Regions from separate parts of the Homo sapiens genome. Here all the other regions are linked to region 2. The links come from fine-mapping of genetic effects on gene expression. A gene starts in region 2. Each other region holds a variant in brackets. All regions are shown on one strand. Distances are between the middles of the regions. Region 1 holds the start of VSIG10 (V-set and immunoglobulin domain containing 10). Region 2 holds the start of PEBP1 (phosphatidylethanolamine binding protein 1). Region 3 overlaps TAOK3 (TAO kinase 3).

The links. PIP is the estimated chance that this variant, and not a neighbour inherited with it, causes the effect.
Region 1: its variant is fine-mapped to the expression of PEBP1 in transverse colon (GTEx, PIP above 0.99).
Region 3: its variant is fine-mapped to the expression of PEBP1 in whole blood (TOPMed, PIP above 0.99).

The regions. Positions count from the first base shown.
Region 1 is chr12:118,095,543-118,106,435 of GRCh38, reverse strand. VSIG10 (V-set and immunoglobulin domain containing 10) reads left to right here and starts at 2,425. Exons shown (of 9, transcript NM_019086.6): 1 at 2,425-2,843; 2 at 10,622-10,893. The coding sequence starts at 2,765. It overlaps LOC124903029 (a long non-coding RNA gene), which reads left to right and starts at 2,854. Exons shown (of 2, transcript XR_007063478.1): 1 at 2,854-3,447; 2 at 4,169-4,831. RefSeq lists an enhancer at 1-690 and a silencer at 2,332-2,581. The variant A/G (reference allele first, on the strand shown) is at 5,590.
Region 2 is chr12:118,131,030-118,141,922 of GRCh38, reverse strand. It overlaps PEBP1 (phosphatidylethanolamine binding protein 1), which reads right to left and starts at 5,799. Exons shown (of 4, transcript NM_002567.4): 1 at 5,579-5,799; 2 at 3,775-3,884; 3 at 2,372-2,472. The coding sequence starts at 5,713. It overlaps LOC101928274 (a long non-coding RNA gene), which reads left to right and starts at 5,931. Exons shown (of 4, transcript XR_945409.4): 1 at 5,931-6,066. RefSeq lists a silencer at 5,422-5,511 and an enhancer at 5,504-6,004.
Region 3 is chr12:118,206,209-118,217,101 of GRCh38, reverse strand. TAOK3 (TAO kinase 3) reads left to right here. Exons shown (of 21, transcript NM_016281.4): 10 at 2,992-3,085; 11 at 4,107-4,188. Among named protein-coding and RNA genes, the nearest start is that of PEBP1, 76 kb to the right of the region's middle. The variant T/A (reference allele first, on the strand shown) is at 6,060.

The sequences.
Region 1 (10,893 bases), 35 kb after region 2:
TGCCTTCCTCTTATATTAATCCTCCTCAGCACAGACCCTTTACGGGTGTCGGGCTGGGGGCAGTCAGGTCTTTCCCTTCCCACAAGGCCATATTTCAGACTATCACATGGGGAGAAACCTTGGACAATACCTGGCTTTCCTAGGCAGAGGTCCCTGCGGCCTTCCGCAGTGTTTGTGTCCCTGGGTACTTGAGATTAGGGAGTGGTGATGACTCTTAAGGAGCATGCTGCCTTCAAGCATCTGTTTAACAAAGCACATCTTGCACCGCCCTTAATCCATTTAACCCTGAGTTTGACACAGCACATGTTTCAGAGAGCACGGGGTTGGGGGTAAGGTCACAGAATCTCAAGGCAGAAGAATTTTTCTTAGTACATAACAAAATGGAGTCTCCCATGTCTACTTCTTTCTACACAGACACAGTAACAATCTGATCTCTCTTGCTTTTCCCCACACTAACACGGTGAAACCCCGTCTCCACTAAAAATACAAAAATTATCCGGGCGTGGTGGCAGGAGCCTGTAGTCCCAGCTACTTGGGAGGCTGAGGCAGGAGAATGGCATGAGCCTGGGAGGCGGAGCTTGCAGCGACAGAGCGAGACTCCGTCTCAAAAAACAAACAAACAAAATTCCTGTCAAGAATCTGATGAACAGTTATTTTATTTTATTTTTTATTTATTTATTTTTTTTGAGACGAAGTCTCGCTCTTCTCCCCAGGCTGGAGTGCAATGGCGCGATCTCGGCTCACTGCAACCTCCACCTCCTGGGTTCAAGCGATTCTCCTGCCTCAGCCTCCCAAGTAGCTGGGATTACAGGCGCCTGCCACCACACCGGGCTAATTTTTGTATTTTTAGTAGAGACGAAGTTTCACCATGTTGGCCAGGCTACTCTCGAACTCCTTACCTCAGGTGATCCACCTGCCTCGGCCTCCCAAAGTGCTGGGATTACAGGCATGAGCCAACGTGCCCGGCTGATGAACAGTTATTTAAAAATATTTGAGCAAAGAATAAAAAAGGGCTGAGCGCGGTGGCTCGCACCTGTAATCCCAACACTTTGGCAGGCCAAGGCGGGTGGATCACTTGAGGTCAGGAGTTCGAGACCAGCCTGGGTAACATGGAGAAACGCTGTCTTTACTAAAATTACAAAAATTAGCTGGGCGTGGTGCTGCACACCTGTAGTCCCAGCTACTCGGGAGGCTGAGGTGGGAGGATCACTTGAGCCTGGTAGTTTGAGGCTGCAGCGAGGTATGATTGTGCTACTGCACTCTAGCCTGGGCAACTGGAGTGACACCCTGTCTCAAAAAAATAAAAAACAGAAAAGTAAAAAAGGCAGAACTGTTCAGCTTCATTGCTCAGTTCACCAGGAGAAACATTTTTTTTTTAAAGTGGTTTCAAGAGGATTTCCTCATGGAAGAAGCATTTCAATAAGGGGACCGTTGAACAACAGAACTAATGATTTTTTTTTAACGTTAATATTTATTTTGAGATGGAGTCTCGCTCAGTCGCCCAGGCTGGAGTGCAATGGCGTGATATCGGCTCACTGCAACCTCCGCCTGCTGGGTTCAAGCGATTCTCCTGCCTCAGCCTACCCAGTAGCTGGGATTACAGGCGCCCGCCATCATGCCCGGCTAATTGTTGTATTTTTAGTAGAGACAGGGTTTCACCATGTTGGTCAGGCTGGTCTCGAACTCCTGACCTTGTGATCCGCCCACCTCGGCCTCCCAAAGTGCTGGGATTACAGGTGTGAGCCACCACGCCCTGCCATATTATTATTATTTGAAACAGGAAGTTTCTCCTAGGGCTGTTTTATGGATGGCTCTTCCTGAGGATATCAAAGCCGCATTTTCCCCAGGACAGAATGGGATGAGGGCATGGCAGGGAAGAGAGGAGCTTAGCCTGGGAATCTGACTGGGTAAGGGGTGGGAGAACTAAAAGGGGAAAAGCAAAAACAAAACTCTTGAGAAACACGTCCTGGGGACTCCTTGGCTCTCGCTGTCACTGTGTGGTCCCAGCCAGTTCACTGGAGAACCGGAGTCTCGTGGCTGCTTTGGCTGAAAGTCAGGGGATCATCTTTCTCTGGCTCCCTTTTGCAGAGGGTAAGGAAAGGAAGCGATGGCGGCCTTGGCGCCCGCCCTGCGCCCAGGGACACAGACCGGAATCCCTCGAGACGCTCAGCGGGGACTGCCAGGGGGGTCCTGCGTTCTGCAGCTTGGCAACCGCTTCCTCCGGGTTCTGCAGCCCGGGGCAGCGGCGGGGGTTGCGTCCTGCGGCAGCTGCAGGGCTCCGTCCCGCCCGCTGTCCCCGCGACTCGGTACTGCTGTCCCGGGCGGAGTGGACTGGGGAGGGCCCAGCCTCCGCGCCCCGCCCCTGGCCCGGCGGGACCCGGCTCGGCGCGCCCTCGGCAGAAAGCCCTCCTCCCGGGCCAAGGTAGAGGAAGTTGGGCTCCCGCCTGGCTGGGAGGCGGGAGGGATCCCGCTCCTGTTGTTTTCCGCCGGCAGGAGTAGGCTGGCGGGCGCAGGGGGCGGGGTGCGCCCTCCCTCCCCGGCCAGGGCGCTCGGGAGCGGGGACCCGAGCCTGCAGCCGAGCTCCGCTGCCGGCCCTGGACACTCGGCTCAGCCAAGCATCCTTCCTGGGGGCCGAGGAAGTGGGGCCACTCTGCCGTTCCGAGGACCTGGGAGGAGCCCTCGGTACCCCGGGCCCCGGGGCCCTGGGGCACACACGTCCAGCCCAGCCCGAGCCTGCGTTTCCTGAGCCGGGATCTGGGGCGAGATGGCCGCAGGCGGCAGTGCGCCCGAGCCCCGCGTCCTCGTCTGCCTCGGGGCGCTCCTGGCCGGCTGGGTCGCCGTAGGTAAGGGGCCGCGATCTGGAGGGAAAAGTTGAGTTTTCCCAGTCAGCGGTGGGGAGGGGACAGCGAGAGACCCAATTCCCTCCGACTCCGCCCGGATCCGTGGTGGCCCCAGCCTAGAAGCTGCCCCAGGAGGGTCTTGGTTTCCTGCTCGCAGCTCGGCCGTCTTTGCAGGAAGGAGTTTTCCCGGGCGCCCGGTGCGGGGCGAGATACCCCCAGCCTCCTGGGGTGGGCAGCCGGTGAGGCTGCAGAGGAGCCGAGCCGAGCCGACGTGCGGGGGCAAAGTAAAGAGGCACGTGTGCCGGGAAAGTGATTTTTTTTTTTAAGCGTCGGATGTAAATTCGCGTTCTGGTTTTAGTAGTAACTGATACGCTGGTGCTCAAACTCGAGACTCCCACTTTATTTTTCTCCTCCCTCTGCCCAAGGTTGAACTCGCCTTACACCTGTAACCGGTGGACTTCCCTACACACCTTTGCAAGTCTTCCTGTGCCGACCAGCGCCTTCAAAGCGGGGTCTTCCGCCTTTACTTTTGGAAAAGCTTTTTATTTTGAAATACTTGGCTGACTTACAAAAGACTTCCCCTCACACTTGACATGATTGACAAAAGGTCTGAAATGCTTCATCTATGGTCTGCTTTGCTACGAAAAAAGAATTGGAGGGGTGCTTACAAAAATATGTAGAATGTAAAAAGATTGAACTATTTATATATATTTGAATTTAATTCACCAGCATGCCTACTGTGCATGCCTACTGTGTGCTGGGAGTGTGACAAGCTGGGAGGAGGCTGGGGTGCAGGGAGAGGAGATGGAGCCAGGAGGTGGTGAAGTTTGCCAGGATGCAGGCAGAGCGCTACTTTTTGTGTTCCCGGGTCTGCTCCACCCAACGGGTCTCCTCTTGCACGTTTCTGGAGATGGGTTGTAAAGTATGCTGGAGCTTCTTAGCAGCAAGTGCCAAGAGTTCCTAATTATTAGGCTCATACAATTTTATTTTGCTTTTTTTTTTTTAACCAACCATTTAAAAACAATAACATCTCTAGATTTCCAGTTTATCTGGAAAAATCTGAAGGTCTGGCAACACGGGGCCTGCTTTCCCAGTTGGAATTGGGCAGTGGTCATCCTCTTATCTAGGGCATATGAGCCCAAATTTGTTCCACCTCTCCCTGTTGTAATATTTGCCCCGCCACCTTCAGTCATGGGTGTTACCTGCTGGCCCTGCAGGCATTTGGCTGAGTAATCACTGTGCTGGGGTGTGGGTGATGGGGGAGGACAGTTCCTAGTTGGTCATCTCTGGACGTGAAAGGTGGTTGTCAAGTATTCCCATCTCCCCAGCTGTTTGCAGTGTTTCCTGCACGATGAACACCAGGAACCTGGGAAGTGAGAAGAACCCTGGGATGAAGTCATCCTGCTGGAATGACCTGGCTTTCAGGCTGACTGCCACCCGCCCCATGGGGAACCTATCTCCACTGCTATGGCCAGCTATTTTTTTCGAGCCAGGCTCTCGCTCTGTTGCCCAGGCTGGAGTGCAGTGGTGCAATCACTGCACTGATCCTCCCACCTCAGCCTACAAGTAGCTGGGACTACAGGCGTGCACCACCACGCCTAGCTAATTTCTAAAATTTTTTTGTAGAGACGGTCTCTACAATCGCTTGAGCCCAGGCTGGTCTTAAACTCCTGGACCCAAGCGATCCTCCTGTCTCGGCCTCCCAAAGTGTTGGGATTATGGGTGTGAGCCACCGTGTTGGGCCTTTGCCCAGCTATTTTGATGCCCAGACCTGCTTCACCTTTGTGTATGATGCCAGGGGGCTTCCTGAGCTTGGTGTATTTTTGTTGTGTGTTTGTTTTTTAAGTTGGGAGTTTTTGGGGAAAAAAATTTTTCTCCTGACATTCAATGCCAGACAACTTATATGCATCCACTAGCTACCCCGGATTGTAAATCCTAGGTTATTCTTGGGAAAAGTTGCTTTAAAAAAATAAATAAATGTTTGGGTATAACTCCTACTCTGTAAATAATAATACATGGGCAGCATCAGGGAGTTTATATTACTCCCTCTTCGGTTCTCTATTGTACATTTAAGGTTGGGGGGCAAGAAGGACCCTCTGGACACCATATGAATGACTTCTAAACTTGTTACTATATTTTATCATTGCATCCTGTCTGGTGCAGGAGACCAGAGTAACGTGACCTGAGTGACAATCCCACATCTCCCAGTGATTTGCTTGGGACTTTAAGTGATAACTTAATCTTCCTAAATCTCAATTTTCTCAGTAGTAAAGTGAGGAGGTTTAGGACTGCCAGGCAAGAACTACCCCTTCCATGTCTATGTCAGACATCACTAAATCGATGACTGTGTTCTTTTCCACTGAACCAGGACTCAATCTCATCTTCAACCCAGCCCACAGGGCAGCCACATCTCTGGACTAGATGATCTCCAAGGGCACCTTCAGATACAGTGGTTTAAAAAAGAACGGAGTAAGCCAAACCAGGAGAAGTGAAATGTCTTCAAATGGTTTCTTTTGTGATCATGTCATTCTATGCCTTGGAGGAGAAAACAATGTTAGCTCAAGTTCCAAGACTAAAGTTTCACCACGGCTTTTTTCCAAGCCACTGTTCCTTTATTTCTTTGCCAAGGAGTTAGGCAAGGGGCAGGTCTGCAGGTTGCATGAACACATGTTGCATCTGTAACTCTGAAGTTCATCTTCCTTTCCATTGTGGCGGTTGCCACTGGATAATTTGGGTTCCCAATCCTAAT[A/G]ATTTAAAAATAATTCTTGGCTGGGTGCGGTGGCTCCCGCCTGTAATCCCAGCACTTTTGGAGGCCGAAGTGGGCAGATCACCTGAGGTCAGGAGTTCAAGACCAGCCTGGCCAACACAGTGAAACCCTGTCTCTACAAAAATACAAAAACTTAGCGGGGCATGATGGCGGGTGCCTGTAATCCCAGCTACTCAGAAGACTGAGGCGGGAGAATTGCTTGAACCCAAAGGCAGAGGTTGCAGTGAGCCGAAATTACGCCTTGCACTCCAGCCTAGGCAACAGAGCGAGACTTCATCTCAAAAAAAAAGTAAATAAATAAATAAAAAGAATTCTTATCTGCTTTTTTTTTTGAGACAGAGTCTTGCTCTGTTACCCAGGCTGGAATGCAATGGTGCGATCTTGGCTCACTGCAACCTCCGCCTCCCAGGTACAAGGGATTCTCCTGCCTCAGCCTCCCGAGTAGGTGGGATTACAGGTGTGCGCCACCACGCCCGGCTAACTTTTTGTATTTTTAGTAGAAACGGGGTTTCACCGTGTTAGCCAGGCTGGTCCCGAGCTCTTGATCTTGCCCACCTTGGCCTCCCAAAGTGCTGGGGTTACAGGCAGGAGCCACCACGCCCGGCCATTCAGCTAATTTTTAGTAGAGATGAGGTTTCACCATGTTGGCCAGGCTGGTCTCCAACTCCTGACCTCAAGTGATCCACCTGCCTCGGCCTCCCAAAATGCTGGGATTACAGGCGTGAGCCACCGCCCCCGGCCCTCACCTGCTTTTTAAAGTGATTGCTCAGAAGCATTTCTTGCTGTTTTGGAATCTCTGTCATTAGATGGCATTCTCCACCTTTCAGCAAGTGGCTTAGTTTTTAAAATTTGGTGTTTTGTTTGTTTGTTCGTTTGTTTTCATCCTGACTTGGCTGAAAAGTCTTGGGAATGGTGTGGCCAAAATGGTGAGAGAATCAGAACTTCCTGGGGCTCCAGGCTGGCTTCAGATCTTTAAAAGGGAGCCCCTTCTAACCAGACAAGAGGCCAAATACAGATAATGATTACTCTTTCACTTAAATGGGAAGGATTGCCAGGGGCAAGTGGCAGTTTATTTTTTCTATAACAGCTTTATTCAGATATAATTTACATGCCACAAAATTCACCCTTTTTAAGTGTACCACCCAGGGGATTTTAGTGTAGTCCAGGGTTATACAGCCATCACCACTAATTCATCATTTTTATCACCCCAACAGGTTCTGCCCATCTTCCTATTCCTGCAGCCTCTTTGTATTGGGTCTTGATTGTGGAGGGGGCTGGACAATTGTGAAACTTCTCAGCAAAATGGGTTGCATTTGCTTCTTGTTACCTAGTGACAGTCTAATGCCCGTTAGCACCTGTCGGTCTTTTTTTATGAGTCAGGGTTGGCTGGGCGTGGCAGCTCACGCCTGTAATCCCACCACTTTGCGAGCCCGAGGTGGGTCTGAGTGGAATGCTTGAGTCCAGGAGTTCAAAGACCAGCCTGGGCAACATAGTGAGACCCCCCACCCCAACCCGCCGCCCCTCCACCATCTCTAAAAAAGAAAAAAACAGTTTTTTACCTTAAACAAACAAAAAGAGAGACAGGGTATCTCTGCTGCCCAGGCTGGAGTGCAGTGTCACAATTGTGGCTCACTGCAGCTTCAGTCTCCTGGATTCAAGTGATCCGCCCACCTCAGCCTCCCAAAGCCCTGGGATTACAGGCCTGAGCAGGCACACTCACACCCGGACACCTGTCAGTCTTGAATGGGCGTCAGAATCACCTGGAGGGCTCGCTAACACACAGATGCTGGGCCAGGTATAATGAATCATTCCTGTAATCCCAGCACTTTGGGAGGCTGAGGTGGGAGGATCACTTGAAGTCAGGAGTTCAAGACTGTCCAGGACATCAGAGTGAGACCCCCCCCAACCCCCATCTCTTAAAAAAAAAGTTAAATAATTGCTGATTTGTTAAAAATAAATAAATAAAACACAAAGGGCTGCTGCTCTCCCGCAGTTTCTGATCTAGGTGTTTTGGGGTGAGGCTTGATAATTTATATTTCTAACATGCTGCGGCTGCCGATCTGGGCTTTGGAACATGCTCCGTTTGCCTGGGAACCCATCCTCACCTTTTCTTGGCTGATTCCTACTTGTCCATCAGATCTCAGTTTGGCTTCCTGGGGGAAGTGTTTCCTGACATTTGCCCTAGTTGGACTTAGGAGCCCTTTCTCTGAGGCCTTATCTTGGTGTTTATCACACTGCATTGTACTTGCCAGTTTATTGTCTCTTTTCTTCACTAGACTGTGAACTCTTGGAGGTTTCTGTGTGTTGTGTCCACAGTGGGATTCCCAGTGCTTTGTCCAGAGTGGGCACACAGTCCCTACTGCCAGCCCATTCTTCCATGGGGCTTCTGAGAGAACTTGAACTCTAGGGCCATTTGAGATGGAGAGAGATGGAGAGGCAGAGAGAGAGGGAGAGGCGGAGAGAGAGGGAGAGGCGGAGAGAGAGGGAGAGGCGGAGAGAGAGGGAGAGGCGGAGAGAGAGGGAGAGGCGGAGAGAGAGGGAGAGGCGGAGAGAGAGGGAGAGGCGGAGAGAGAGGGAGAGGCGGAGAGAGAGGGAGAGGCAGAGAGAGCAGTGGGACAGTGGAAACAAAGCCAAAGCCCTCTTCTTTCTACCCCTTCTGGATTTCTAGGCAAATAAAGCCACTTGGGTTCTGTATCAATTATTGATCGCCACAGTAATGCTGTATAAGAAACAACCCCAAAATGACAGTAGTGCTTATTACCCACAGGCTGGGGTGGTTGGTTAGGGGGCTCTGCTGATCTGCCTGGGGATCGATGACTAGCTGAAGGCTGATCTAGAATGGGCCAGGCTGGAGCCACTGAGACAACTTGGGTCTGTACCATGTAGTTTGTTTATTTATTTATTTGAGACAGAGTTTCACTCTTGTCACCCAGGCTGGAGTACAGTGGTACAATATCGGCTCACTGCAACCTCCGCCTCCCGGGTTCAAGTGATTCCCCTGCCTCAGCCTCCCGAGTAGCTGGGATTACAGGTACCTGCCACCATGCCCAGCTAAGTTTTTGTATTTTTAGTAGAGACGGGGTTTCACCATGTTGGCCAGGCTAGTCTCGAACTCCTGAGCTCAGGTGATCCACCGCCTCAGCCTCCCAAAGTGCTGGGATTACAGGCGTGGAGCCCGGCCTTTTGTTTGTTTGTTTGTTTGTTTCTTGTTTTTGAGACAGAGTCTTGCCCCGTCACCCAGGCTGCAGTGCAGTGGCACAATCTTGGCTCACTGCAACCTCTACCTCCTGGGTTCAAGTGATTCTCGTGCCTCAGCCTCCTGAGTAGCTGGGACTACAGGTGTGCGCCACCACGCCTGGCTAATTTTTGCATTTTTAGCAGAGACGGGGTTTCACCATGTTGGCCAGGCTAGTCTCGAACTCCTGGCCTCAAGTGAAACCTCCTCCCTCGGCCTCCCAGCGTGCTGGAATTACAGGCATGAGCCACGGCTCCCGGCCTCATTGCAGTTTTGATTTGCATTTCTGTAGTGATTATAGACAAACACTTTAAAGACTCTGCTTGTGTCACATTCCCAACATCCCATGGGCCAAAACAGGGCTCATGGCTGAGTCCTCACAAAGAGTGGGATGGCCCCCCAGTGATGTGGGGCATGGATGGTGGGCAGACTGGGTGGACAACTGGGGCTATGTTTGTTACCTACTACAAGTTCATTATTGTCAGTGACTGGCCAAGAGTCCCAACATACCAGACGTTCTGTATGTGTTGTTTGTTTGTTTGTTTGTTTTGTTTTTAGACCGAGTCTCGCTCTGTCGCCCAGCCTGGAGTACAGTGGCGCAATCTCGGCTCACCGCAACCTCCACCTCCTGGGTTCAAACGATTCTCCCACCTTAGCTTCCCGAGTAGCTGGGATTACAGGCGTGTGCCACCACGCCCGGCTAATTTTTGTATTTTTAATAGAAACGGGGTTTTGTCATGTTGGCCAGGCTGGTCTCGAACTCCTGACCTTAGGAGATCTGCCTGTCTTGGACTCCCAAAGTGCTGGGATTACAGGCATGAGCCGCTACGCCCAGCTGCTCTGTATGTGTTATTGCATCTTAAGAACACATATGGTCAGGCACGGTGGCTCATGCCTGTAATCCCAGCACTTTGGGAGGCCGAGGCCGGCGGATCAAGTGATTCTCCTGCCTCAGACTCCCAACTAGCTGGGACTACATGCCCAGCTAATTTTTTGTGCTTTTTTTTTTTTTTTTGAGACGGAGTTACGCTCTTGTTGCCCAGGCTGGAGTGCAATGGTGCGATCTCGGCTCAGCGCAACCTCTGCTTCCCAGGTTCAAGCGATTCTCCTGCTTCAGCCTCCCTAGTAGCTGGGATTACAGGCATGTGCTACCACGCCCAGCTGATTTTGTATTTTTAGTAGAGACAGGGTTTTTGCATGTTGGTTAGGCTGGTCTTGAACTCCTGACCTCAGGTGATCCGCCCGCCTTGGCCTCCCAAAGTGCTGGGATTACAGGCGTTAGCCACCATGCCCGGCCACAATTTTTTGTATTTTTATTACAGACGGGGTGTCACCATGTTGGCCAGGATGGTCTCGATGTCTTGACCTTGTGATCCGCCCACCTCGGCCTCCCAAAGTGCCAGGATTACAGGCATGAGCCTGACTTTTCCTGAGGTCAGGAGTTCAAGACCAGCCTGGCCAATGTGGTGGTGAAACCCTGTCCCTTTTGAAAATATAAAAATTAGCTGGGCGTGGTGGCACGTGCCTGTAATCCCAGCTACTTGGGATGCTGAGGCAGGAGAATAGCTTGAACCCGGGAGGCAGAGGTTGCAGTTAGGCGAGATAGTGCCATTGCACTCCAGCCTGGGCGACAGAGTGGGACTCCGTCTCAAAAAAAAAAAAAAAAAAAAGAACATATACCTGATTTTTAAAAAAATCCTAATACAGGAGTACTGTCCAAAAAGGGACATTGTTTAGAAATTAAGAAGGGTAGTAACAGCCTGATCTTGCCTTGTACAGGATTGGAGGCTGTTGTCATTGGAGAAGTTCATGAGAATGTTACTCTGCACTGTGGCAACATCTCGGGACTGAGGGGCCAGGTGACCTGGTACCGGAACAACTCGGAGCCTGTCTTCCTTCTCTCGTCCAACTCTAGCCTCCGGCCAGCTGAGCCTCGCTTCTCTCTAGTGGATGCCACCTCCCTGCACATTGAATCGCTGAGCCTGGGAGATGAGGGAATCTACACCTGCCAGGAGATCCTGAATGTGACTCAGTGGTTCCAAGTGTGGCTG
Region 2 (10,893 bases):
ATCCCAAATGCCCATCAATAGAGAATGGCTAAACAAACTGGCCTGTTCACCAACGGGAATATTACTGAGCAATAAAAAGGGGTAACTATTGATACAATCTATGGACCAATCTCACAGATATTATCTGGAATGAAGCAGACCAGTCACCCAAATTTTTTAAAATACACATTGCATGATACTTTTTTTTTGGAGGCAGAGGCTTGCTCTATCGCCCAGGCTAGAGCGCAATGGCACAATCTCAGCTCACTGCAACCTCCACCTCCCGGGTTCAAGCCATCCTCCCACCTCAGCCCCACAGGTGGCTGGGACTACAGACGTATGCCACCATGCCTGGATAATTTTTGTATTTTTGGTAGAGACAGAGTTGTACCATGTTGGCCAGGCCGGTCTTGAATTCCTGGCTTCAAGTGATCCAACTGCCTCCACCTCCCAACATGCTGGGATTATAGGCGTGAGCCACCGTGCCTGGTCCATGATACCATTATATGAACACAAGAATAGCGAAAGTGGCTGGACACAGTGGCTCACGCCTGTAATCCCAGCACTTTGGGAGGCCAAGGCGGGCGGATCACAAGGTCAGAAGTTCGAGACCAGCCTGGCCAACATGGTGAAACCTTGACTCTACTAAAAATACAAAAATTAGCTGGGCGTGGTGGTGGGCGCCTGTCATCCCAGCTACTCAGGAGGCTGAGGCAGAAGAATCATTTGAACACAGGAGGTAGAGGTTGTAGTGAGCCGAGATCACGCCATTGCACTCCAGCCTGGGAGACAGAGCGAGACTCCATCTCAGAAAAAAAAAAAAGAATAGTGAAAGTGATTTATGGAGACAGGAGTCAGAATATGGTTAGCTCTGGGGGAATTTAAGTAAAAAGGTCACATGAGAATGTCGTTGGGCGATGGAAATGTCATCTGTCTTTCCAATGGCTGCTACCTTCCATGGGTGTATGCATTGATCACATTTGCTGACTGAACCCTTCCGATCTGTGGATTTTGTTACCATGTAAATTATACCATATTACAAGAATATGGAAAAAACAACAAGAAAATGAGTTACTGAGGCTTTTTTAAAAATGAGAACACAGCTCTGCCGGGCGCAGTGGCTCACGCCTGTAATCCCAACACTTTGGGAGACCGAGGCAGGTAGATCACAAGGTCAGGAGATTGAGACCATCCTGGCTAACACGGTGAAACCCCGTCTCTACTAAAAATGCATAAAATTAGCCAGGCATGGTGGCGGACACCTGTAGTCCCAGCTACTCGGGAGGCTGAGGCAGGAGAATGGCATGAACCGGGGAGGTGGAGCTTGCAGTGAGCGAGATCGTGCCACTGCACTCCAGCCTGGGAGACAGAGCAAGACTCCATCTCAAAAAAAAAAAATGAGAACACAGCTCTTACTTGAGAGAATTGCCTTATTCTCATGGGTAAGCTTCCCATAATTAACCTGCCTAATTTTATAACTGCCCTAGAGAACTTACTAGGTCCCTGGGAAATCTGTCCCTTTACCATCTACTATGCATGCGTGAGAGGGTTTAAAGGCATCTGAAGCTTCCGGGTCTACAGAGAAACCATGAGCCCATGACCAACTGTCCATGTCAGAGATGTTCTTGTACCTCTTCATGTTAACTCCTGGCTGGATAAGCTGTACAAAAAGCTAGGATTATGACAGTTCCACCAAATGGAAACATCCTGAACTGAACACCAGGCAATAAGAATGCATATCTCACCATCAGCTTAGGTGGCACTTACCCAACCTGGAAAGTTTCAATACGGTGGGCTTTCTCTTTCTATCTCTAAATATCTACATGTATTTTATATATAATAGCTATAACACGATACTACACAATACAATGTGTGTGTGTGTGTGTGCGCCTTCAATATAGTTCTACTGAAGTCTTCCAAATCTGTTTTCAATATACCCAGCTAGACTTTTTCAGAAACAAATACAGAAAGCAACCTTATATAGTTAATTTGGAAACTATGATCATTTCTGAAATGTTTTAAAGAAACTCAAAGATCACCCCGGGCAAAGGCTTGAGATAGTTTAACTGTGTATTCCACTCACTGCAGCCCCAAAAGGCCATGCTAAGCTTTCTGCAACAGTGCTTCCCTCTCACCAACTTCCCTGCTTGCTAAAGGGCTAGGGGTGCAGAGACAGCTCTACACAAAGGGTCCGTCTGTCCAGAACCCAAGGCTCTAGCCACCTGACACTGCTGCAGGTCTGAATGTGTGCCCTGAAGGCAGCTGCCCTAGAGGTAAGCTGAGATGCTATTTCCAGCAGGGTTAAGGGCTCTCAAAAGAAAAGCATTGGGTCAATCCTAATGTGCCCCCGAGCTCCCTCCCCAACCTCCCACCAAAAACAACCTTTACTAACCTGTGCCCTTGGGAGGCCCCGAGCCCACATAATCGGAGAGGACTGTGCCACTGCTGATGTCATTGCCCTTCATGTTGACCACCAGGAAATGATGCCATTCTCTGCATGAAGAAACACGGGATGTCAGCACCACAGGAGATCAGGGAACATTCACTGCACAGTCAGCAACTGGGCATCAAGAACATGCTGGCTGCCACAACACAGCCACGAACAACAGTCCTTTCTTTTTTTTTTTTTTTTGAGACAGAGTCTCACTCTGTCACCCAGGCTGGAATGCAGTGGCACGATCTCGGCTCACTGCAAGCTCCTCCTCCTGGGCTCAAGCAATTCTCTGCCTCAGGCTCCCAAGTAGCTGGGATTACAGGCGCCTGCCATCATGCCTGGCTAATTTTCGTATTTTTAGTAGAGACGGGGTTTCACCATGTTGGCCAGACTGGTCTTGAACTCCTGACCTCGTGATCCCCCCGACTCGGCCTCCCAAAGTGCTGGAATTACAGGCATGAGCCACCGCGCCCGGCCCAGTCCTCACTTTCTTAGAGGCCAGCACGAACCTCATGTGTTTGCAGAAGAGCAGACCCAGCCCCTCCCACCCTCTGACATTTTCTAGAGCAAAGGTCAGCAAACTTTCCACTAAAAGGCCAGAGAATAAATTTGTTAAGCTTTGGGGGCCACAGTCTCTGTTGCAACTATTCAACTTGGCCTTGGCAGCATGAAAGCAGCCACAGATGACACATAGCTTTGCTCCAATAAAACGTTAACTGATGGACACTGACAGGTAAATTTTGTGTAATTTCCACATCATAAAGTACTATTCTTCTTTCAATTTTTCACCAATCATTTAAAAATGTGAAAACCAGGCCGGGCATAGTGGCTCACACCTGTAATCCCAGCACTTTGGGAGACTGAGGCGGGCAGATCACCTGAGGTCAGGAGTTCGAGAGCAGCCTGGACAAGGTGAAACCCCGTCTCTACTAAAAATACAAAAATTAGCCAGGCATGGTGGTGGGCGCTTGTAATTCCAGCTACTCGGTTAGCTGAGGCATGAGAATCACTTGAACCTGGGAGGTGGAGGTTGCAGTGAGCCAAGATCATGCCACTGCACTCCAGCCTGGGTGACTGAGACTCTGTCTCAAAAAAATAAAAAATAAATAACTAAATAAAAATGTAAAAACCATTCTTAGCTCATGGGGCTGTATAAAAACAGGCCACAGGTGGATATGGCTCTCGGCTGTGAGTTACAGACACCTGCTGTAGGGGGGCAAAAGGGCAGGAAAGGCACTCTCTGGCTTAAGCATGGGTGGGGGCATCCCAAACCAGGTCTACTTCTCTGTGTCCAGCAAGGGACTTACACCCGATAACTCATCTCTGCATGACCTGCTCTTCTCGTCTTTCTCACCTCTCACCTGTATTTGGGATCCTTCCTGCTGGGAGCATCCGGGTCTGTCAGGACCAAGGTGTAGAGCTTCCCTGAATCAAGACCATCCCACGAAATGCTGGTGGGTCTATTCTTAACCTGTATGAAGGAACCAGTTTGCAGTAAAAAAGTCAGAAATGCTGAAGAAACTGGCTGGGTGTGGTGGCTCACGCCTGTAATCCCAGCACTTTGGGAGGCCTAGGAGAGAGGATCACTTGAGGTCAGGGGTTTGAGACCAGCCTGGCCAACACGGTGAAACCTGCCTCTACTAAAACTACAAAAATTAGCTGGGCATGGTGGCGGGAATCTGTAATCCCAGCTACTCGGGAGGCTGAGGTGGGAGGATCACTTGAGCTGGGGAGGCAGAGGCTGCAGGCGGCCAAGATCACCCCACTGCACTCCAGCCTGGGCGACAGAGTGAGACTCTGTCTCAAAAACAAGAAATGCTGAAGAAACCAATACTCTTTCTTTGATCTCAGACTCTCCAAAGACAAAACAGAATAGATTTTTAATAAAATCAATGACCCTGTATTGACTGTAAGAGCCAGGAGCTGGAGTTTTATATACGTTATGTATTTTATTTGAGACCAGGTCTCCTTCTGTCACTCAGGCCGGAGTGTAGTGACGCTATCAAGGCTCACTGTAGCCTCAACCTCCAGCGCTCAATCGATCGATCCTCCCACCTCAGCCTCCTGAGCAGCTGGGAACTACATGCTCACACCATCACACCTGGCCAATTTTTTTTTGTAGAGTTGGGGTCTTGCTATGTTGCCCAGGCTGTATATTATTTCAGTCCCAACAACACCATGGGGCTAGTATCCCAGCACACTATTAAGAGAAACAGATAAGGCTGGGATTCCAACCCTGGCACTGAGTCCCCTCTCAACGACACCCTTACATTGTCTGTCCGGAATCACAGCGTTTCTGGATTTGGTGATCAGGAGGTTACCTGGAGCCTGCTGAAGTGAAATCTGCATTAACTGTACGTTTCAAAGTGCAAAGAAAAGGAGAAAGCCAAGGTGATGAGAGGCGGGCAGGGAGCAGGAAAAGGGAGGCTGTGTTAGATGGGCACTACATATTTAAACATCCAAAAAAATTAAATTCTGTGAACATCCAAAACAATGTAAGGTCGGGGCAGTTTATTTTACGCTGTTGCCCGGAGCTTCATAACCAACTAGCAGTGGCGTCTGCAAATCTAGTTTCTTCACTTTCGGCAGCCCCAGCCGTGGGCGTGGGAGGTCAAAGACCAAAACTAAACCGTTGCCCTCCAGCGTACCGGCTGGACGCTCTCGACCCATTTAACAAAGGAGAAATCGGCCGGCGCGCTCATCGCCAGTTACATAATGCGTCACAGGCTCTCGGGTGAGGCTTCAGCCCTCCAAAACCAGGCCTAAAATGCTGAGGCCCTAGGGGAAGCTCTGGGGGCGTCCGGGCAGCCACAGCCTACTCTGTCCCGGCGACGTCCCTCTCCAGCGCCCTGGCCTGTGGGGGGAGAGGGGGATCCGGCCTGTTTCCGAACCTAGGTCCCTCTTGGGTCTGAAGCCCGGGAAAAGTGAATGAATTTCTGCCGCAGGCCGAACCTGCCTGGCCACGCCACAGGCCGGGTTCCCGGTGCTCGGGGTGGCCCCCAGGCATGGGACATGGACCCCGGGACCTCTGGCCTGGGGGGGCCTCGACACACGCAGGCTGAACCTCCCCACCGCCCCTGGCCCTGTCTCCGCTGGGTCCCACCCAGGAGGCCGGCACAGGCCTCCGCGCCGTGCCGCTCGCTGCACGCCCGCCGCCCGGTGTACCTGGGTGGGCGTCAGCACTTTGCCCAGCTCGTCCACCGCCGCCCCGGCGTAGGTGACATGCAGCGGGTGCTGCGGCTGCTCGTCCACTTCTTGCAGGCTCAAGGGCCCGGACCACTTGCTGAGGTCCACCGGCATGGCGAGGCCAAGCAGAGCGTGCAGCCGGGAGTGCCGCGGTAGGCCAGGCGCGGGCGACAGAGGCGACGCGGAGAGCTCAGCACACTGGCTCGGGAAGACGCAGACCCAGCGACCACGCGAGAGCACGCGCCTCAGCCGCCGCCCAGCCCCGCGCACCGCCCCACGTCACGCCCACCGCTCCCTGGCCTCTGATTGGCCGAAGCTGGCAGAGCAGGGCCTCTCGCGCTCCTGGGTCCATGCAACCTGCTCCCTGTGGCTGCCGAGTTCTCGGGAACAGCGGCTCGGCCTGCAAGGCTGTTGTTTCAAGAAATGAAAATGAAGGGCGCCCTGGAATAGGTTCGCCGAAGAGAGAGGTTCGTGTCTCAGAAAGTGTCGCTGGGAAAAAAAAATGCAATTGAATTCGCCTTGGTTGCGTTTTGGTTTTCTTAATTTTTTGCATGATTCTTTGCTCCACTTTCCAAATTCAGCAACATGGCCTGTCGCGGTGGCTCATGCCTGTATTCCCAGCACTTTGGGAGGCCAAAGCAGGAAGATCGCTTGAGCCCAGGAGTTTGAGACCATCCTGGACAAGGTAGCAAGACCCCGTCTTTACAGAAAACTTAAAAAAAAAGAAAAAAAGAAAAAAGCCAGACACAGTGGTGCATGCTTGTAGTCCTAGCTACTCCGGAGGCTGGGGCGGGAGGATCACTTTTTTTTTTTTTTTTTTTTGAGACGGAGTCTCTCTGTGTTGACCAGGCTGGAGTGCAGTGGCGTGATCTCGGCTCACTGCAAGCTGCGCCTCCCGGGTTCACGCCATTCTCCTGCTTCAGCCTCCCGAGTAGCTGTGACTACAGGCGCCCGCCACCACGCCCGGCTAATTTTTTGTATTTTTAGTAGAGACGGGATTTCACCGTGTTAGCCACGATGATCTTGATCTCCTGACCTCGGCCTCTCAAAGTGCTGGGATTACAGGCGTGAACCACCACGCCCGGCCGATCACTTCTTGAATCTAGGAGTTTGAGGCCGCGGTGAGCTACGATCTTGCCACTGCACTCCTGTCTGCGCTTCAGAGCCAGATCCCATCTTCTCATACACACACACACACACACACACACACACACACACACACACAGCAAATTCAGAAACAGTAAGGCCTTGCTTTTCTCCTGCACTTTAAAACGAGCCAGATTCTCTGTATTTTCGCACGTGATCACTTGTCATAGTAATTGCCTGGTGAGAGCACCTGAGTGAACTTTTGAGCATTTAAATATATGGGGAAATGTATTTGTCCGTTTTCTCCACACACAAAATTCGTCCTCACAAAATTCCTGAGAAATGTTTGGGTTTTGGTTTTTTATGTTTGTTTTTTGAAAAACAATTTTAAACCATATTTATTCATACCAAAACTGCTCTTACTGTGACCACAAGCTGCTTGCTTTTTGCTGAATATGATAAGCACTATTTTTTTTTTTTTTTTTTGAGACGGAGTCTTGCTCTGTCGCCCAGGCTGGAGTGCAGTGGCGTGATCTCAGCTCACTGCAACCTCTGCCTCCCGGGTTCAAGCAATTCTCCTGTCTCAGCCTCCCGAGTAGCTGGGATTACAGGCAGGCGGCACCGCGCCCAGCTAATTTTTGTATTTTTAGTAGAGACAGAGTTTCACCATGTTGGCCAGGCTGGTCTCGAACTCCTGACCTCATGATTCGCCTGCCTCAGCCTCCCAAACTGCTGGGATTACAGGCAATAAGCCACCGCGCCCAGCCAATAAGCACTATTTAACAGTTCTTATCTGTTTTGACTCTTGACATTGATAATTCCTCCCATGGAATAAAAAGTTGTCTCTTGATTTACATTCTTACTAGGAAATAATACGAGTTCATTGTAGAAAATCAAAGAAAAAAACCCAAAGAAGTAGAAATCCCCTTCTATCCCACTACTTTGTTATAAACGTCAGTAATCATTTAGGGTATATCTTTCCTATTTAAAAATAATATGAGTATAGATGATTTTGTTGTTTATTCACCAAAAGATTGCATTATATCCTACCATTATAAAATAGTCATATCAAAAATAGGTCGTCAGGCCAGGTGCGGTTGCTGAGGCCTCTAATCCTAGCACTTTGGGAGGCTGAGGCAGGAGGATCACTTGAGTCCAGGAGTTTGAGACCAGCCGGGACAACATGGTGAAACCCCATCTCTACAACAAAATACAAAAATTAGCCCGGTATGGAGGGATGTGCCGGTAGTCACAGCTACTACCAAGGCTGAGGCAGGAGGATCACTTGAGCCTGGGAGTTTGAGGCTGCAGTGAGCCGTGATTGTGCCACTGCACTCCAGCCTGGGCGACAGAGTGAGACCCTATCTCTACAAAAATAAAGCAAAATAAAAAAAGTCTTCAACATTTTAATGACTTCTCTAGATGCACCATCATTTATTCAACAAGCCTCTTGATGTACTCTGTTTTGTTCATTGTTTTCCTTTTACAAATATCACTGAAATGAACTTCCTTATACATATATCTTTAAAAACTTGAAAGACTGTTTTTGGAAAATTTTATTACATGGGAACTTTTATTAATTAGGTCAAAAAATACACACTTTATTTTTTGTTTGTTTTGAGACAGTCTTGCTCTGTCGCCGAGGCTGGGATGCAGTGGCACAACATGGTGAAACCTGTCTCTACTAAAAATATAAAAATTAGCCAGGCGTGGCCGGGCGCGGTGGCTCATGCCTGTAATCCCAGCACTTTGGGAGGCCGAGGCGGGCGGATCACGAGGTCAGGAGATCGAGACCATCCTGGCTAACACGGTGAAAACCCGTCTCCACTAAAAACATACAAAAAAATTAGCTGGGCGTGGTGGCGGGCACCTGTGGTCCCAGCTGCTACTCAGGAGGCTGAGGCAGAAGAATGGCATGAACCTGGGAGGCCGAGCTTGCAGTGAGCCGAGATCGCGCCACTGCACTCCAAGCCTGGGTGACAGACCGAGACTCCGTCTCAAAAATAAAATTAAAATAAAATAAAATAAAATAAAATAAAATAATAAAATAAAATAGCCAGGCGTGATGGCACACACCTGTAATCCCAGCTACTAGGAAGGCTGAGGCAGGAGAATTGCTTGAACCTGGGAGGCGGAGGTTGTAGTGAGCCCGAGATTGTGCCACTGCACTCCAGCCTGGACGACAGAGTGAGATTCCATCTCAAAAAAAAAGAAAAAAGAAAGAAATATTTACAATATATTCTCTGAAGCCTGCTACTTGGAGGCTTTTTTTTGGGGGGGATACTCCACAACCCCTTATCATAACCCAGACATTCCTTTCTATTGATAGTAACTCTTTTAACCAATTGTGAATCAGAAAATTTTAAAATCTACCTATAACCTGAAAGCCCTCCCACTTCAAGTTATCCTACCTTTCTAAACCAAGGTTTTGTTTTTTTGTTTTGTTTTGTTTTGTTTTGTTTTGTTTTGTGTTTGAGACAGGGTCTCGCTCTGTCACCCAGGCTGGAGTGCAGTGGTGCAATCACGGCTCACTGCAGCCTCAACTTCCCGGCTCCAGCGGTCCTCCCACCTCCCGCAGGTGTGTGCCACCATGCCTGGCTACGTTTTGTATTTTTAGTAGAGACAGGGTTTTGCCACGTTGCCCAGGCTGGTCTCGAACTCCTGAGCTCAAGTGATCCACTGGCCTCAGCCTCCCAAAGTGCTAGGATTACAGATGTGAGCCACCACAGCTGGCCCCAATATATATCTTATATGTATTTAATTGCTGTCTCATGTCTCCCTGCAATGTATAAAACCCAGCTGTGTCCAACCACCTTGCACACATTTTCCCTGGGTCTCCTGAGGGCTGGGTCATAGGCCATGGTCACTCATATTTGACTCAGAATGAATCTCTTCAAATGTTTTACAAAGTTTGACTCTTTTCATTGATGCTATTTATTCTGCCGTCTGCTTGTATTTCTGCCACGTGTGCCTCTTCTAGGCCAGAAGCTTGGGCAGGTGCTGGTTGAGGGTAGACTCAAATGAACCAGCCTGGAAAACCACCAGTTGTTTTTGTTTGTTGAGTGAGGACCAGGAAATTCACTGATGTGGTTATTTAGTGAAATGGCTTCATGCCAATTTCACTCATTGTGCTTCTGCAAGAGAAACTGTTTAATGAGGGAATTTGGGGCCAGGGGCGGTGGCTCATGCCTGTAATCCCAGCACTCTGGGAGGCCGAGGCGGGTGGTTCACCTGAGGTCAGGAGTTGGAGAACAGGCTGGCCAACATGGTGAAATCCCTGTCTCTGTGAAAAATACAAAAATTACCCGGGCGTGGTGGTGAGCGCCTGGGATAATCCAAGCTACTCAGGAGGCTGAGGCAGGAGCATCGCTTGAACCCGGGAGGCGGAGGTTGCAGTGAGCCAAGATCGTGCCACTGCACTCCAGGCTGGGCGACACAGCAAGACTCCGTCTCAAAAAACAACAAAACAAAACAAAAATAATAATGAGGGAATTTTGGACAAAAACAAAGTTCTGTCCTTAGCTCGAGTTCAGAAACTGTTGTGGCCATGCCAGTGACTTGGAACTGCCACTCCAGGGGACCGAGGTGCTGGCTGCTGGCCAAGGATATGCACTGAGACACTGTTGTGAGAATTAACCATTAACAGGTCGCCGGGATTCCGTTTGTCACATTTTTCCTATTGAGACTTTTTTTTTCCCTTTTCTCTTTGAGAATTTCAAAGCATTTAAAAATACCCTCTATGTCCGGGCGCGGTGGCTCACGCCTGTAATCCCAGCACTTTGGAAGGCTGAGGCTGGTGGATCACGAGGTTAGGAGATCGAGACCATCCTGGCTAACACGGTGAAACCCCGTCTCTACTAAAAATACAAACAACTTAGCCGGGCGTGGTGGCGGGCACCTGTAGTCCCAGCTACTCGGGAGGCTGAGGCAGGAGAATAGCGTGAACCCGGGAGGCGGAGCTTACAATGAGCCGAGATCGCGCCACTGCACTCCAGCCTGGGTGATAGAGGGAGACTCTGTCTCAAAAAAAAAAAAAAAAAAAAAAAATACCCTCTATGTTCTCACTTAATCTCCGACAGTCCTTGGTTGATGCAGACGACCACACATCCAAAAGGAAACCAGGTATGTCAAATCATGCGTAAACTCGGGAAAGCCTCATCATGCAGACTTTAGCAATGTTAAATTAGTGATCATTCAGGCCAGGCGCA
Region 3 (10,893 bases), 75 kb before region 2:
AGAAGAAGAGCCTTTACTTAAAAACTAAGGTGCTCTGATGAAACTAGAGATCAGATTATGAATTAGAAAGTGAGACTATATAAAAAATCCATTAGGGTAAGCACAGTAGAAAGAGATAGTGATTTATCTTCTTCTTCTCTTCCTTTTCTTTTTCTTTTTTTTTTTTTTTTTTTGAGATGGAGTCTCACTCTGACGCCCAGGCTGGAGTGCAGTGGCACGATCTCGGCTCACTGCAGGCTCCGCCTCCTGGGTTCACGCCATTCTCCTGCCTCAGCCTCCCAAGTAGCTGGAACTACAGGTGCCCGCCACCACGCCTGGCTAATTTTTTTGTATTTTTAGTAGAGACAGGGTTTCACCGTGTTAGCCAGGATGGTCTCGATCTCCTGACCTCGTGATCCACCCACCTCAGCCTCCCAAAGTGCTGGAATTACAGGCGTGAGCCACCGTGCCTGGCCTGATAGTGATTTATCTTCTATTCCGTAACAACTAATAAATACCATAAAATTAACTGTACTCAGAACTAGAGCCTTGTTTCTTTCCTTTGATCCACAAATGGAACCCCTAATATGTGAATCACATTTTATTACAAATTCTGGGGGAATAAGTAAAAGAAAAAGAATATTCAGGTTATAAGATCTTGTGCTCTTAGAGCTTATGATTTCTTTTGAGAGAAAAGATTTGTATGATGATGTAGATATGATAGGTGAGCACATGCCAAATGACCAGTATGCCAAGGGAGAGTTGGAGGAGTTCCAATAAAGAGATCGTGGTGGGCTGGGGAGGAGTAAATCCTCTACCAGGAAATACCTGGCCAGATACAGTGCATCATGCCTATACTCCCAGCACTTTGGGAGGCTGAGGCAGGAGGATAGCTTGAGCCCACAAGTTCAAGACCAGCCTGGTTTAAGACGGGGTCTCACTCTGTTGCCCAGGCTGGAGTGCAGGGGCCGATCTCAGCCCACTGAAACCTCCACCTCCTGGGTTCAAGTGATTCTTCTGCCTCAACCTCCCAAGTAGGTGGGATTACAGGCTTGTGCCAACATGCCCGGTTAATTTTGTATTTTTAGTAGAGACAATTTTCACCATGTTGCCCAGGCTGGTCTCGAACTCCTGGCCTCAGGTGATCTGCCGGCCTCGGCCTCCCAAAGTGTTGGGATTATAGGTGTCAGCCAACGCGCCCAGCCTCTATACAAAAAAAAAAAAAAAATTGTTTAAATTAGTCCAGCGTGGTGGCACACACCTGTAGTCTCAGCTACTCAAGAGGTTGAGGATCTCATGAGCCTGAAAGGTCAAGGCTATTGTGAGCCCTGATTGTGCCACTGCACTCCAGCCTGGGCAACAGGGCAAGTCCTCATCTCAAAAAATAAATAATTAAAAAATAAATGCCTGACTCACTGAGTTTCTCTTTAGAGTGGGATGGACCAGACTTTATTTATAATTTATAGTTCTCTTCCTCCTTTCCATTTCTCTCTCTACTGTCACCCCTAGCAATTATTTGGCCTGAATCAGGCATCAGACAGTATTTACTGAATATAATTGGCTTATCTCTCATGCTCTGTTAGTGATTTTTGTTGTTGTTGTTGTTCTTTTGAGACAGAGTCTCACTCTGTCACCCAGGCTTGGGTACAGTGGCGCGATCTTGGCTTACTGCAAGCTCTGCCTCTCGGGTTCATGCCATTCTCCTGCCTCAGCCTCCCGAGTAGCTGGGACTACAGGTGCCTGCCACCATGCCCAGCTAATTTTTTTGTATTTCTTTTTTTTTTTTTTTTTTGTAGAGACGGGCTTTCACCGTGTTAGCCAGGATGGTCTCGATCTCCTGACCTCGTGATCCACCCGCCTCGGCCTCCCAAAGTGCTGGGATTACAGGCGTGAGCCACCGCGCCCGGCCATTTTGTTAGTGATGTTTAAGATGTTTCATTATGGGACTGGGTGCAGTGGCTCACGCCTGTAATCCCAGCACTTTTGGAGGCCAAGACGGGTGGATCACGAGGTCAGGAGTTCGAGACCAGCCTGGCCAATATAAGGAAACCCCCTCTCTACTAAAAATACAAAAATTAGGCCGGGCGCAGTGGCGCATGCCTGTAATCCCAGCACTTTGGGAGGCTGAGGTGGGTGGATCACCTGAGGCTGGGAGTTCAAGACCAGCCTGACCAACGTGGAGAAACCCCATCTCTACTAAAAATACAAAATTAGCCGGGCATGGTGGCTCATGCCTGTAATCTCAGCTACTCAGGAGGCTGAGGCAGGAGAATTGCTTGAACCTGGGAGGCGGAGGTTGTAGTGAGCTGGGATCGTTCCATTGCACTCCAGCCTGGGCAACAAGAGCGAAACTCCATCTCAAAAAAAAAAAAAAAAGAAAGAAAGAAATTAGCCATGCACGATGTCAGGCACCTGTAGTCCCAGCTACTCAGGAGGCTGAGGCAGGAGAATCACTTGAACCCAGGAGGCAGAGGTTGCAGATCGTGCCACTGTACTCCAGCCTGAGCAACAGAGCAAGACTCCGTCACAAAAAAAAAAAAAAAAGTTGCATTTTATAGTAATCTTTTTTCCTTATTCTATGTTTCTTTGCTTTCTGACTTTTTTAAGTGAATATGAATTTTTTTCTTTTTCTTTTTCACCAAATACCCAGACTTCAAGGAGAGAATATATATTTTTGAGCTAAAACGCACATGCAAAGATCTTCATACCTATTGTGGGAAAATATGCAAAAGCCAATTTTTTGAAGCTATGTGAAAAAAAGAAAAAAACTTTTCTTTCACTCTTTTGAAATGAGTTCTGTTAGGAGCTTTGCCAATGTACATTTAATGTCCGGCAGCTTCTTCTGAATGGCTATCTTGGGCCAACCTTAGAGATTAAAATAAGTGGATTATGTGGCATGATGACAGTAATGAGCTATTGATTTAGCCGCAAAGCTTTGCTCATAGTTTCTTATTTCTCTGTCTGCCTGGTTTCCTTCAAGAACTACTTTATTGTGTTTCTTTCCTCTTCCAGCGGAACGGAAGCCGCCCCTTTTCAACATGAATGCAATGAGTGCCTTATATCACATTGCCCAGAATGACTCCCCAACGTTACAGTCTAATGAATGGTAAGACTCTGCTATCATTTTAAATCTCTAAGAAAATCACCGTATGTATTTGACATTTTTATTACATTACATTTTAAATATCTGACCTAGAAAGCATTTCTTTCCTTCACTGTATGTTGTTACAAGTGACACTGATGCCTCACAAGCATCAACTGTCTACACATGCACACATGCATAGATTTTCTTATTTTTGCCTTCACCATGGCTTGCACTGTGTTCTTAATGTGTCTAGTAACCAAAATCCTGCAGGGAACATGCCCTGCTACCCTCCTAACAAGTCTATTGTCCCAGGTCATGATGGTCTTGTATTGATCATCTCAGCTGATATCACTTCTCAGCAGAGATAAGGGGCCCTCTATGATGTCATTATTTCTCCAGTTGTCTTTTTTTTTTTTAAACTATATGTACACTTAAATGTGTTGAGACAGAGCATACATTATCTATTCAGATACAGTGTTCCTTGCTGAAAAGTATGACATTTTTATAACTATTTGGGCCACAAGAGTTATTTTAAAAGGGGCAATATTAAAGAAGAACGGATAAAATGGAACTTTTAAGATAGGAAGAATTTTTGTTCAGGAAGCCTACTCCTGGGTTCTCCATCCCTCATGCTTCAAATTTTACTACTTTGTTATAGATTGTGGGTGGTAGAGGAATTAACAATTGGTAATTAAGAATATAGAGTTGAGACTATGAGAATTGTTGTCTTTGGAGAGAAAAATGTATATAAAACTTTTATTTAAACATAGTATTTTTGTTTTCTGATGTATATTATGATTTGACCTTCCTTATATATTAAGATGTATTAATATGTTGACTAACTTGAAACTTGTCCTCACTCATTATCCAAAAGAATTTTAGATATCGTAACTTGAAAATGCTCCAGTTATCCTGATATTCCAAAGCATTTTTTTAAAATCTCCTTAAATGCAAAATTTTCCCTTGAATGAAAATTGTTTTAAGTAATCAGTGTGCTCTACAGACCCTGAGTTTATTTTCTTTTGTGTATTTGCACACACAGGACAGACTCCTTTAGGAGATTTGTTGATTACTGCTTGCAGAAAATACCTCAGGAAAGGCCAACATCAGCAGAACTATTAAGGGTAATTTTTCAAATTTATATTTGAGGAGGGGGATTTAAAGTCATGTTATAATGGAATATAATAAATCATTCCTGTGGCAGCTCATCATGACAAAGTGGTTTAGGACGTGCTGCCTTGTCATTTATCCTGAGATAAGTAGCTAGGCATAGAAATAGCAAGATTATTGCAACGTTATGTGCTATGTATTCCCTGTGGATAGGTTTTTCCCTATCTTTTCTATTTTTTCCCCTCCCTCCCTGTTCCTTTTTTGCCTTATAACAAATAATATTTCTCCTCCTTGCTCTAGTCATCATTGTGATGTTCCTGGGCCTAACATCTGCATAAACATTAATCCAGTGGTCTCAGGACAGAGCTGGCTGGTGGTTCAAACACCAACTCTGGGATTTTCAGTTAGGTTGTTGCCAAATCCTCAGGCAGTGAAGGTGTATGATAACTATATAGAGTAGACATTTACATAGTATTATGACATGTTAGTGATAAGAGTATCGTGTTAACCACATTTATTTGATTTAATTATCACCAAGCATCTCTTTTCATGTAATATTTTACTGTAGACTTTATACATAGGCAGTGTGTTGCATCAATATCAGTGTAGTATGTGGAAATCTTTTACAGTAGAAGTGTTTTCTTTTATTTGGCGCACAATAGTCCAAATTTCTTTAATCCTTCTTTTGCATGTTTGTTTTTCAACCCTTTCTGTTTCTTCCGTCTCTAGAATGGCTGGCTTTTATTGTATAGCAGTTCTGTTTGTTCGTTTTTAAGAAGAACTCAGAAGAGTTGTATTGCCTCAATTTGTAAAGCTTAAAAATGTTTGCCTTTATAATTTAAGAACACCTTGGCTAGGTGACAAGTTTTTACTTCTTGTGAGCGGTAGGCCACAGGAGTATGGTAAGAGAAGCAACAGGACAAAGAGCTTGATCTTGTTCTCCTTTGTTGTGGAGCCCTTACATGTTTTAAACATGAACTACTTAGCAACAATTCCATGTTTCTTTAGGGGAAAATAGCAACCAGAACAAAACACCAGAAACACACAATAATATCTTTATTACCTTGAAGTACACAAAGATCTTAAAAACAAACAAACAAAAAACCAAGACATAAAAATTACTACCATAAAAGGGGAAAAAATGTGGAGCTGGGTATGGTGGCTCACGCCTATAATCCCAGCATCTCAGGAGGCTGAGGCAGGAGGATCACGTGAGCCCAGGATTTTGAGGTTATAGTGAGGTATGATTGTGCCACTGCACTCCAGCCTGGGCAATAGAGTGAAAATACCATCTCTTTAAAAAAAAAAAAAAAAGGAAAATATGAATAAATTTGGGCGATGTTAAAAGTTAAGGGTTACAGACAACAAAAGGATATAAAAAGCAAATGGGTAGAGGTAAAGAAAAAAATGGAAGAGAAAAAACATAACAGTTTAAAAAATCATATTATAAGCAACGAACATGTAGTAAACCAACCCATTTAGGATGTTTCCAATGGTGAATAGGCTTAAGGAAATAAAATAGAATTAAGTGCAAAAAATAAAACTTCTAAAGATGAATATAAAGAAAATGATACATTTGGAAGACACAGGAGATCTAATATATGCCAACCGATTATTCCTGAAAAAGAAAACAAAACACATGGAGGAGAAGATTTTTAAAGATATCCTTGAAGAAAACTTTTCTGGAAATGTTTGGATCTTCCTTTGATTTGATTCCATCTTGATTTGATGGACCAAATCAAATGGGCCAACTATTTATTCAACAAATATTTACTGATTGTCTGCTGGGTGTCAAGTACTATTCTAAGCGCAGAGAATACAGTAGTACACAATAAAAACATAGTGCCTGCCCTTGTGAAACTTACAAGAAGGAGTAAGAAATAAA[T/A]AAGTAGGCCGGGCGTGGCGGCTCATGCCCGTAATCCCAGCACTTTGGGAGGCCAAGGTGGGAGGATCAGGAGGTCACCAGTTCGAGACCAGCCTGGCCAACATGGCGAAACCCCGTCTCTACTAAAAATACAAAAATTAGCTGGGCATGGTGGCAGGCACCTATATTCCCAGCTACTCAGGAGGCTAAGGCAGGAGAATCACTTGAAGCCGGAAGGCGGAGGTTACAGTGAGCCAAGATAGCACCACTGCTCTCCAGCCGGGGCAACAGAGCGACACTAGGTCTCAAAAAAAAAAAAAAAAGAAAAAAGAAAAGAAATAAATATATGTTATAGTGCCAGTTGATGTTAAGTGTTGTGCAGAAAAATAAATTAGACAAGCATCAAGATTGACAGGTGCTGCTATTTTAGGTAAGGAGAAGGCCGTTCGAGGAGGTAACATTTAAGCAGATACATGCATGAAGAGGGGGACCATGAAACTGATCTTCATTGATCAGTAAATCATATCCTGGTGAAGTCCCTGAACTCTAGGAATAAAGAAAGATTCATACAAGCAGACTGAAAAAGTTTATTTTGGGGTGGAAAAACCAACTGACTCCAGACCTACCTCTTCAGGAACAGTCAAAGCCAGAAAACAATAGAACAGTGTTTGCAGAGTTCTAAGGGAAATAAAATATAAGCCAGGAATTGTGAGCCAGCCAAGATGTTCTTAAATTATAAAGGCAGCTGACATCTTCGAGCCCCACACATTTAGGCAATGCAACCTTTCGGCGCTTTCCTTTTAAAAATTGCTCAATAACAGAATCTAGCCAATATAGAGATGAAGCAAAAAGAAGAAAAAGAGGGAGGAAGGCAAGCAGGAAGAATGAATGAGGGACTGGAGAAACTGGTAAAAGGGCTGATGGTAAATATTGAATTTAAAGAGGCCCCTCCCCAAATACTTATTTATTTATTTTGCATGGCTAAAGAAGCTGTATGTTCTTCATTTTAAATAGGTCTCACAAATTTCCAAAAGGAAAAATACAGTAGAAGGTACAACCTGGGGCTGGGCACAGTGCCTTACACCTGTAATCCCAGCACTTTGGAATGCTGAGGCAGGCAGATCACTTGAACCTAGGTGTTCAAGACCAGCCTGGACATGACAAAACCCCATCTCTACAAAAATTAGCCAGGTGCAGTGGCATGCGCCTTTAGTCCCAGCTGCTTCGGAGGCTCAAGGAGGAGAATCACTTGAGCCTGGGAGGCAGAGGTTGCAGTGAGCCGAGATCCTGCCATTGCACTTCAGCCTGGGTGATGGGAGTAAAACCCTGTCTCAAAAAAAAAAAAAGAAGAAGAAGAAGAAGAAGAGCCGGGTGCAATGGCTCACACCTATAATCCCAGCACTTTAGGAGGCCAAAGCAGGCAGATCACCTGAGGCCAGAAGTTCAAGACCAGCCTGGCCAACACGTAGAAACCCCATTTCTACTAAAAATATAAGTATTAGCCAGGCATGGTGGTTCACACCTGTAGTCCCAGCTAATCGAGTGGCTGAGGCAGGAGAATCGCTTGATCAACTAGGAGGTTGCAGTGAGCCGAGATTGTGCCCCTGCACTCCAGCCTGGGCAACAGCAAGACTCTGTCTCAAAAAATAATAAGAGAAGGTAGAACATGAAAAAGAAATCTCCCTCCCATTTCAGGCCCCCTCACTAGCAACCACTGCACCTATTTTGTACCTCTCCTTCTAGTGATATTTTATGCATATAAAAGTAAATGTTGTTTTTATTTTTGCACAAATGACAGCAAACCATAAAAACCGTTCCACCCTGATTTTTCTTTTTGCTTTACAGTGTGCTTAGGATATTGTTTTGTATTACTACATGCAAAGCTACCTCATTCTTTTTAATGGCTCCATAATATTCTTAGATGGACCATAATTTGTTTAACCAACGCATTTAGGATGTTTCCAATCTTTTGCTATTACAAACTGTGCCGTAATGAATATCTTTGTGTATATGGCATTTTGTCCCTGTATAAGAATATCTAAAGAATAAATTCTGGCCGGGCACGGTGGCTCATGCCTGTAATCCCAGCACTTTGTGGGGCCAAGGTGGGCAGATCACAAGGTCAGGAGTTCAAGACCAGCCTGGCCAAAATAGTGAAACCCCATCTCTCCTAAAAATACAAAAATTAGCTGGGCATGGTGGCATGCGTCGATAATCCCAGCTACTCGGGAAGCTGAGGCAGGAGAATCACTTGAACCCGGAAGGCGAAGTTTGCAGTGAGCCGAGATCGTGCCACTGCACTCCAGCCTGGGCAACAGAGCAAGACTCCATCTCAAAAAAATAAATAAATAAAAATAAAATAAAGAAATTCCTAGAAGTGGGATTGCTCATCAATGTGGATTTTAAATTTAGATAGATATTGCCCATTTGTCCTTCAAAGCAGTTGCACCAATTTATAGTCCCACCGTGAAAGTATGAAGACTGATACTTTTTGAACTTTGTCAGATCAGTGAAAACTTTTCTCACTATAGTTTTAATTGCTATTTCACATTATGGGAGATGTTGAACATCTCTCTCGTAAGTTGAAAAGCCATTTGTATTTCCTTTTTAATTTATAGTAGATCTTGGATTTTTTTTTTCCTATTTCTCTTTTGACATTCTTTATGCTGATGTTTTGTGGAAAGGAGGTGGGGAGAGTTATGCAAAAATTTGTTACAAGGAGTGAGGTAAAAATCTACCTTTTTTCCCCCAGCTAAGCTATCTACTTACTCCCAGATATTTTTCAATAATACATCTTTTCCATGCATTTTTGCCCTGACATTAAAACATCACTTTCACACTTAATCCATTTAAATAAACAACTGAGGTAAAATTATTGAAATGGTTAAAGGACAGATGTAAATGTTAGAAACATTTGCAATGTAAAAATAATGTAATTAGAAAAATCTAAGGGCAGGAAAAACGTATGCATACTAATTTCCTTATCTTTCCAAGTAGATGGACAATAACATTTCTTAAAATATATAGGACAAAAGAACTAAAGTAACTTCAATCTCGTAAAGCCTTTAATAATTTTTTTTTTAACTTTAGAGGATCTGTTAGGAACAGATAACTCTTTTGGTGAAGAAATTACAACTAAAGTTAAGCAATTGTTTTATTTTTTAATTTGTGCATGTGTGTGTGTGTGTGTGTGTGTGTGTGTGTGAGACAGAGTCTCGCGCCGTTGCCCAGGCTGGAGTGCAGTGGCGCGATCTCGTCTCACTGCAACCTTCGCCTCCTGAGATTCTCCCTAGCAATTCTCCTGCCCCAGCCTCCTGAGCAGCTGGGATTACAGGCACACGCCACCATGTCTGGCTAGTTTTTCTATTTTTAGTGGACACAGGGTTTCACCCTGTTGGCCAGGCTGGTCTCAAACTCCTGACCTCAAGTAATCCACCCGCCTCAGCCTCCCAAAGTGCTGGGATTACAGGCATGAGCCACTGCATACAGCCTATGCAATCGTTTTAATTCAGTCTCTTCTAATCCTGTTAAATTCAAATATACCTTAATTAAATCGATTATACATAAAATTAGCTTGTATAATCAGATTCCCATGTAAAATGATTTCTAGTTATTCATTGTTCTGAGAGAAAGAAAGGGACATGTCTAAAATGATATTCTGTAACTTAATATTTATGTATTTATTTCGAGATGGTAGAATTTCGGGTGATTTTCTTTCTTTTTTTTTTTTTTTTCCTGAGACGGAGTTTCGCTCTTGTTGCCCATGCTGGAGTGCAATGGCACGATCTCGGCTCATGGCAACCTCTGCCTCCCTGGTTCAAGCGATTCTCCTGCCTCGCCCTCCCTAGTAGCTGGGATTACAGGCATGTGCCACCACGCCCGGCTAATTTTCTATTTTTAGTAGAGACAGGGTTTCTCCATGTTGGTCAGGCTGGTCTCGAACTCCTGACCTCAGATGATCCACCCTCCTCGGCCTCCCAAGGTGCTGGGATTACAGGCATGACCCACCGTGCCTGGCCGATTTTCTTTTTTTATACATTTTTCTGTGTTATTTGAGTGTTGAAAGTAAACATATTTTTGAGAACAATAAAATTGTCCTTTTAAAAGAGTCCGAGGGCATTCCAGTTGTAGGGGTTTGGAGAACAGTGGGCTTTTAAAAACAATGAGGAGGCCGGGTGCAGTGGCTCACGCCTGTAATCCCAGCACTTTTGGAGGCTGAGGTGGGCAGATCACGAGGTCAGGAGATTGAGACCATCTTGGCCAACATGGTGAAACCCCATCTCTATTAAAATACAAAAAATTAGCTGGAAATGGTGGTGCATGCCTGTAATCCCAGCTACTTGGGAGGCTGAAACAGGGGAATTGCTTGAACCCGGGAGGTGGAGGTTGCGGTGAGCTGAGATGGCGCCACTGCACTCCAGCCTGGCGACACAGCAAGACTCTGTCCCAAAAAATAAAAATAAAAAAAAACAATGAGGAGATGGGATTGCAGGCAGAGAGAACATAGAGATGTGAAGGCAAAGGCCTAGAGGTGTGAAAGGTATGCACGGGTTTAGAATTACCTAGAATGTACCTAGAATTGTGTAGGAAGGAGGAGTAGCAATGACTAGATTTAAACCTAGAAATACAAGCAGGAACCTGGCTGTAAAAGGCTACACTTTATCTAAGAGACAGTGAGATATTAAGATGTAGAGTGTATCTGTTTGTAAAAGGTTTAAACAGGTAAGAGTTTATCTCATGTAATAGGAAGTCCAGGACATTGGAAAAGGAAGTGGCGTAAGCAGTCCAAAGCTCTAAGCAGCTCAACAATGTCGTCATCGACCCAAGCTCTTTCTCTCTTTCTACTTCACCATCC